Linked DNA regions of Homo sapiens. The protein of the gene in region 1 purifies or fractionates together with the protein of each later gene. This does not show direct contact. Each region holds a gene or a part of one and is shown on either strand. Other genes may lie near its edges. The genes, in order: TMEM161A and HTR2C.

The links.
Region 2: the proteins of TMEM161A (region 1) and HTR2C purify together in Homo sapiens (co-immunoprecipitation; one large-scale study listed by IntAct). This does not show direct contact.

The regions. Positions count from the first base shown.
Region 1 is NC_000019.10:19,124,899-19,128,727, reverse strand, and holds part of TMEM161A (transmembrane protein 161A isoform 1 precursor), read left to right. Parts: intron 1-3,829. UniProt on the Homo sapiens protein: May play a role in protection against oxidative stress. Overexpression leads to reduced levels of oxidant-induced DNA damage and apoptosis.
Region 2 is NC_000023.11:114,849,302-114,853,130, forward strand, and holds part of HTR2C (5-hydroxytryptamine receptor 2C isoform a precursor), read left to right. Parts: intron 1-3,829. UniProt on the Homo sapiens protein: G-protein coupled receptor for 5-hydroxytryptamine (serotonin).

The DNA.
Region 1 (3,829 bases):
TGTCTCTACTAAAAATACAAAATTAGTCGGGCGTGGTGACACATGCCTGTAATCCCAGCTACTTGGATGGCTGAGGCAGGAGAATTGCTTGAACCCAGGAAGCGGAGGTTGTGGTGAGCCAAGATCGAGCCATTGTGCTCCAGCCTGAGCAACAAGAGTGAAACTCCGTCTCAAAAAAAAAAAAAAAAAAAAAATGTAGGCCAGGTGTGGTGGCTCACATGTGTAATCCCAGCACTTTGGGAGGCCAAGGCAGGCGGATCACAAGGTCAGGAGATCAAGACCATCCTGGCTAACATGGTGAAACCCTGTCTCTACTAAAAATACAAAAAATTAGCTAGGCTAATGGCACACGCCTATAGTCCCAGCTACTTGGGAGGCTGAGGCAGGAGAATGGCGTGAACCTGGTAGGCGGAGCTTGCAGTGAGCTGAGATCGCGCCACTGCACTCCAGCCTGGGCGACAGAGCAAGAGTCCATCTCAAAAAAAAAAAAAAAAAAAAAGTCTATTTAGATGTCGTGCAACCATCACCACCGTCCATCTCCACAACTCTTTGCTCTTGCAAAACTGAAACTCCAGCCCATCAAACACTAACTCCCTGTTCCTCCTTCTTGCAGCCCCTGACACCCACCATTTTACGTCCTGTCTCTGTGAATGTGACCACTCTGGGTTCCTCATATAAGTGGCATCATACAGTATTTGTCCTTTTGTGACGTGCTCATTTCAGTTAGCACAATGTCCTCAAGGCATATCCATGTTGTAGCAGGTGTTAGAATTTTTTTTTCTTTTTTTGAGACAGGATCTCACTCTGTCACCGAGGCTGGAGTGCAGTGGTGCAATCACAACTCACTGCAGCCTTGATCTCCAGGGCTCAAGTGATCCTCCCACCTCAGCCTTCCAAGTAGCTGGGACCACAGGCACATGCCACCACACCTGGCTAATTTTTAATTTTTTTTTTTTTTTCTGTAGAGATGGGGTCTTGCTATGCTTCTCAGGCTGGTCTCAAACTCCTGGCCTCGAGCAGTCCTCTCACCTCCGCCTCCCAACGTGCTGGGATGACAGGCGTGAGCCACTGGGCCCAGCCAGAATTCCATTTTTAAGACTGAACACTGCCAGGCACGGTGGCTCACGCCTGTAATCCCAGCATTTTGGGAGGCCAAGGCGGGCGGATCACGAGGTCAGGAGATCGAGACCATCCTGGCTAACATGGTGAAACTCCGTCTCTACTAAAAAAAATACAAAAAATTAGCCGGGTGTGGTGGCGGGTACCTGTAGTCCCAGCTACTCGGGAGGCTGAGGGAGGAGAATGGTGTGAACCCAGGAGGCGGCGCTTGCAGTGAGCTTAGATAGTGCCACTGCACTCCGGCCTGGGTGAAAGAGCAAGACTCCATCTCAAAAAAAAAAAAAAAAAAAAAGACTGAACACTATTTCATTGTCTGGGTGGAACACATTTTGTTTATTCATCCACAGATGAATGCTTGGGTTGTTCCCAACTTTTGGCTTTTTGACTAATACCGCTGTGAACCTGAGTGTACAGGTATCTCTTTGAGACCCCATTTTCAGTTTTGGAGAGTATATATCCAGAAGTGGAACTGCTGGATTATATGATAATTCTACTTTTAATTTTTTGAGGGACTGCCATACTGTTTTATACAGCAGCTGAACCATTTTATTTTATTTTTGAGACAGAGTCTCATTCTGTTGCCCTGGCTGGAGTGCAGTGGTGGCGTGATCTCCACTCACTGCAACCTTTGCCTCCCGGATTCAAGTGATTCTCATGCCTCAGGCTCCCAAGTAGCTGGGACTACAGGCTCCCACCACCACACCCAGCTAATTTATTTTTTTATTTTTATTTTTATTTTTTGAGACAGTCTCCCTCTGTCACCCAGGCTAGAGTACAGTGGCATGATCTTGGCTCACTGCAACCTCCACCTTCCAGGCTCAAGTGATTCTCTTGCCTCAGCCTCCCAAGTAGCTGGGATTACAGGTGTGCGCCACCACACCTGGCTAATTTTTGCATTTTTAGTAGAGATGGGGTTTTGCCATGTTGGCCAGGCTGGTCTTTAACTCCTGACCTCAGGTGATCCTGCCCATCTTGGCCTCCCAAAGTGCTGAGATTACAGGTGTGAGCCACCACATCTGGCTACACCCAGATAATTTTTGTGTTTTTAATAGAGACAGATTTTGCCATGTTGCCCAGGCTAGTCTTGAACTCTTGAACTCAAGCAATCGCCAGCCTCGGCCTTCCAAAGTGCTGGGATTACAGGTGTGCACCACTGTGCTCAGCCCATTTTATATTTTATATTCCCAGCAGCAGTGCACAAGTGTTCCAAATTTATCCACTTCATTGCCAATACTTCTTTTGTTTTCATTTGACCACTATTTGCATTATTTTCCGTCTGCATACATGCATCACACTTTCTTTGCTGAGTCGTCAAATGTAGTTGTAAGTGTCACCTCTAGTGTCTTGATGAATGGAAGTTGATTATTTTAGTTGATATTTGTCTTGAAAAATATCCTTCCCTAAAATCAGAAAGTCATTCTACATTGTCTTTTTTTTTTTTTTTGAGACAGAGTCTCGCTCTTTCCCCCAGGCTGGAGTGCAGTGGGCGATCTCTAGTATTTTTTACTAGAGATGGGGTTTCACTATGCTGACCAGGCTGGTCTTGAACTCCAGACCTCAGGCAATCCACCCGCCTCAGCCTCCCAAAGTGCTGGGATTACAGGCGCGAGCCACCGTGCCCGGCCTACTTTTTGTATTTTTTACTAGAGATGGGGTTTCACCACGTTGACCAGGCTGGTCTTGAACTCCAGACCTCAGGCAATCCACCTGCCTCAGCCTCCCAAAGTGCTGGGATTACAGGCGCTTGCCACCACGCCTGGCTGAAATATTTTAGAAGAAAATATAGAATGACTGGCCAGGGGTGGTGGCTCATGCCTGTAATCCCAGCACTTTGGGAGGCCGAGATGGGCACATCACGAGGTCGGCAGATCGAGACCATCCTGGCTAACACCGTGAAACCCCGTCTCTACTAAAAATACAAAAAATTAGCCAGGCGTGGTGGCAGGCGCCTGTAGTCCCAGCTACTGGGGAGGCTGAGGCAGGAGAATGGCGTGAACCCGGGAGGTGGAGCTTGCAGTGAGCCAAGATCGCGCCACTGCACTCCAGCCTGGGCAACAGAGCGAGACTCCGTCTAAAAAAAAAAAAAAAAAAAAAGCTGGGCAAGGTGGCATGCACCTGTAATCCCAGCTACTCGGGAGGCTGAGGCAGGAGAATCACTTGAACCCCGGAGGCAGAGGTTGCAGTGAGCCGAAATCACGCCATTGCACTCTAGCCTGGGCGACAAGAGCAAGACTCCATCTTAAAAATCAATAAATAAAATATTTCAACTTTTACATTTCATATAAGCTCCTAAACTACTCACTGTTGCTGATGGACAGTGACATTAATTTTTGTGTTATCATATAGGGGTCAAATTTGAGTGTCTCCACGGACTAACCTTGCTAAACAATTATATTTTTATTGAATTGCAGATTCTTTTTGGTTTTCTTTTGTTCTGTCTGATCCTTCCCCTTTGGTGTGGCTAGGACCTCTGGATTTGAGAACAGTACTGGCGTACCTCCTTTTCTTGTTTCCAATTTCTCAGTTAGCTACTTGGCTCATAAATTTTCAATCTTTTCTAATTTTATAGCATATATAGCATTTAATGCTATATATATTTTACCAGGTCTCACTTTTGTTCACCTAAGTTTTTTTTTGTTTTTGTTTTTGTTTTGAGATGGAGTTTTGCTCTTGTCACCCAGGCTGGAGTGCAACTGTGCAATCTCAGCTC
Region 2 (3,829 bases), on another chromosome or scaffold:
TATTGTTGCATCAGCTTCTAGTAATGAAAGACTGAGTAATTTGCAATGACTCTTGTGCTAAAGGCAAATAAACACATGGATAAAACACTAAAAGCCCTAAGAAGCTAATGAAATAGAAATTGCTATTGGCTAAGATCCAGAAAAAGACAAAAACCCAAGAAAAATGATTATGACTTCTAGTTCACTTTTGCCAATGATGCATTATAAACCTGAAGATATGACTGACAGGTGGAGACGATCATTTCAGACTCGCAAGCAATGGAGGACTAGAGTAGGAATACAGAGTCTGGCAAGGGCCAACCAACCTGAATTTAATTCTGGGATCACAAAAAAACCAGACACTAGGAATAAGGATCGACCAGGATTAAATCACCATAGACATGGAATTCAGCCCTGGTTCAAGTCATCTATGTAAATGAGAGAAATCTTGGGCCTTAAAATTGGATTAAGATGATTTCGTATTATTCAGGTTTCCAATTTTGGGGCATAAACAAACAAAAAAAACCCCATAATCCTAGATTTCAACTTATTTCTTTCAATAATTTTCAAATGCTGTCACTGAAATACAATGATATGCAGATATATGAGGAGACAATACAACATGAATCAGGTATGGGACAATAAGAGATAACAGAAATAAACTTACAAACACTTCAGATAATTGAATTATCAGACATACACTTTAAATAATCATTTGGAATGTGCACATGGAAATTACATGCTGATCTTAAACACTTCAGCAAGAAACTGCAAACTATAACAAATGACATTAAGATTTGAGAAACACCTAGAAAATATGGAACTTAAGCATAATATGAAAAACTAAGGGCCAGGCAGTGTCTTACACCTGTAATTCCAGCACTTTGGGAGGCCGATGCAGGCGGATCACTTGTGGCCAGGAGTTCAAGACTAGCCTGGACAACATGATGAAACCCCATCTCTACTAAAAATACAAAAATTAGCCAGGTATGGTAGCACACGCCTGTAATCCCAGCTACTTGGGAGGCTGTGGTGGGAGGATCACTTGACCCTCAGAGGTCAAGTCTGCAGTGAGCTGAGATCATGCCACTGCGCTCCAGCCTGGGCAACAGAGTGAGACTCTGTCACACACACAAAAAAAATTAATTAATTAAAAAATGAAAACCTAAGAACTCTGTGGCAGATTAGAGATGGCGAATTTCCAAATTTACAGAAGATTATTATAAAATATTAAAAATTAGCTGGGTATGGTGGCATGTGCCTGTAGCCCTAGCTACTCAGAAGGTTGAGGCAGGAGCATCACTTGAACTCAAGTGTCTTGAGGTTGCAGTGAGCTATGATCGTGCTATGACACTTCAGCCTTGATGAGAAAGCAACACTTTGTCTCTACAAATAAAAGATAAAATGAAATAATAAGATAAATCCAAAAGGAGTCAATAAAAGATAGAAAAATATAAAACGTATACTGAATGGCAGAATTAAAACCAAATATATCCCTAATTATATGAATTACTAAGGATTCTAAGACTGTCATATAGGCTTTCAAAAAAATAAGACAACTATATGTTACAAGAGGCATATATAAAGCATAAAGAAAGTAAAAGGATAAAAACAAACAAAAAAATTCCTCCATCTAAACACTATCCAAGAGAAAGACTGTATAGCTATATTAATATTTGTCAAAATAGACTTTTCGGCAAAAAACAAATACTCCAGTGAAAGAAGATTACTTACTATGAAAGATTTAATACATCTGGAAGACATAAGGTAATAAATTTGTATGTACATAATTATATGTAGATACATATGTAATATACATAGTATATACATTATAAAGTAAAAGAGGACAGAACTTCAGGGACAGATAGACAAGTCTACAATCATCGCATAAGATCTTAGCACATCCTTCTCAGCGATTGTATGAAAACAATTAACAAACCTGAACTCACTGACAAGTGAAGAATACATATTCCCATCATTGCACAAGAAATATTTATCAAAACTGACCATAAAGTAATTCCTCAACACATTCCAAAGGGTTGGAATAAATTGTTTATTCTTTGACTGAAATTCAAAAGAAATAGAAATGACTTCAAAATAGTAGAAAAACCTTCGTATATTTGGAAATTAAGAAATTGTTTCCCAATAAACTTTGACCTAATGGATTTCAAATCCATTGATGATTCTTCCCTAAGCTATCTATTACTAAGGTGATACAATGATAATTTTTCTCATTTTATTATTCTTCCTGCCTTTATTTGTTGGTATTATACTGTAAGGAAGTGTTTTCCCTCCAAGTCTTTGTTATTTATTAGTTCATGTTGGTGGAGACTCCTGGATTCTTTTGTATTCAGTGTAATATATATGATTCATTATTGCCCTTAATTATTTTGATGCTCAAATTGTCTCATATTTTTCTAATAAGAACTCCTTTTCATATATCCCATCAGCTTTTGAGCATTTGCCAGACTCACCTTTTACTTTCCATGCCCCAGTTCCGAAATTAGCCATTTCTTACAAGAAACCCTTTTAGTGGGCAATGGTTTTATAAAGCAGGATGCAGAAGCTCAGTATGCTCATTGCTAATAGGATATCATTGCTCCTATATATCAATACCTTTAATCCCAATTCACGAACACAGGACTCTTGCTACTTTCCAATTCTTTATTTTTCCTCATTTTTCTCACAGTGAGTAACTTTGTCCCCAAACCATTGATATATTTATTATTTATATTTTCTATATCCTACCATACAAGAAATTAATTTCAGAATTTCTATACCCATACCACTACCAATAAATGAAATGCAATGTTTAAAATTTCATTGCAATTTTATCTTTAGAATGTTTTCCACCAATGGCATATAGTCAAAGCATTGTCTTCAAAATGCTAGGATTAGTTTGAATTTTTTTTCTCTGTGGTTCTGATACCAATTGTTCACATTTAGGGATTTTGTTTTGTTTTTGCATGTATTCCCCAACCTTGTTGACTTTATTTTTTAATATGTAAAACTTTAATATGATGCTCCAACAGTCAAAACTAGGCAAATAAAATACTCAGAGAAGAGTCAGTTCCTCTTCTATTCCGTGGTTAACCCATTCATTAGTTTCTAGGGCATACTTCTTGAATTTATTTTTGCAAAAAAAAAAAAGATTATACACAAATACACGTATTGTTATTTTTCCATTCTTAAATTAAAAGTTAAAATGCTACATACAAATTAATACTTTGTTTTGCTTTGTTCTTTTACTTGGAAATATGTCCTGGAAATCACTCTATCAATTTGTAAGATGATAGATATGCACCCAACTTTATCATGTAAATGGCCTAAATACTCCAATTAAAAGCTAAATTCATTCTATTATTTTTTACACTCACTAATAATAGATTGTGTTGATATACTTTATTTAACCAATCTTCTGTGTATAATCAGGTAAGTTGTTTCCAACATTTGGAAGTTGCCAATAATTCTACTAAGAATAATTGTGTGTGTGTGTGTGTGTGTGTGTGTGTCCTTTGTGTGTGCGTGCGTGCATGTGTGTCTGTCTTGTGTGTTTGTGTGCGCGCGCGCGTGCATGTGTGTGTTTCATATTATTGGAAGTTTAACTTTTAAATAAATTCTTGCTCAAATGTATTCAGAATTTATCTTCTAAATAAATTCTTAGAGGAGGAGTTGATTGATCAAAGGGTACATGTAGTTAGGAGTTGAACCATTTTGCATTCCCACCAGCAATGCAAGAAAGCCTCTGTTTCCCCAAAGCCTTGCTAATGAAGTTTATTTTCAAACTTTTTAGATTTTGCAAATCCCATAAGTGAGAAATGTTACCTCAGTGTAATTTTAATTTGCATCT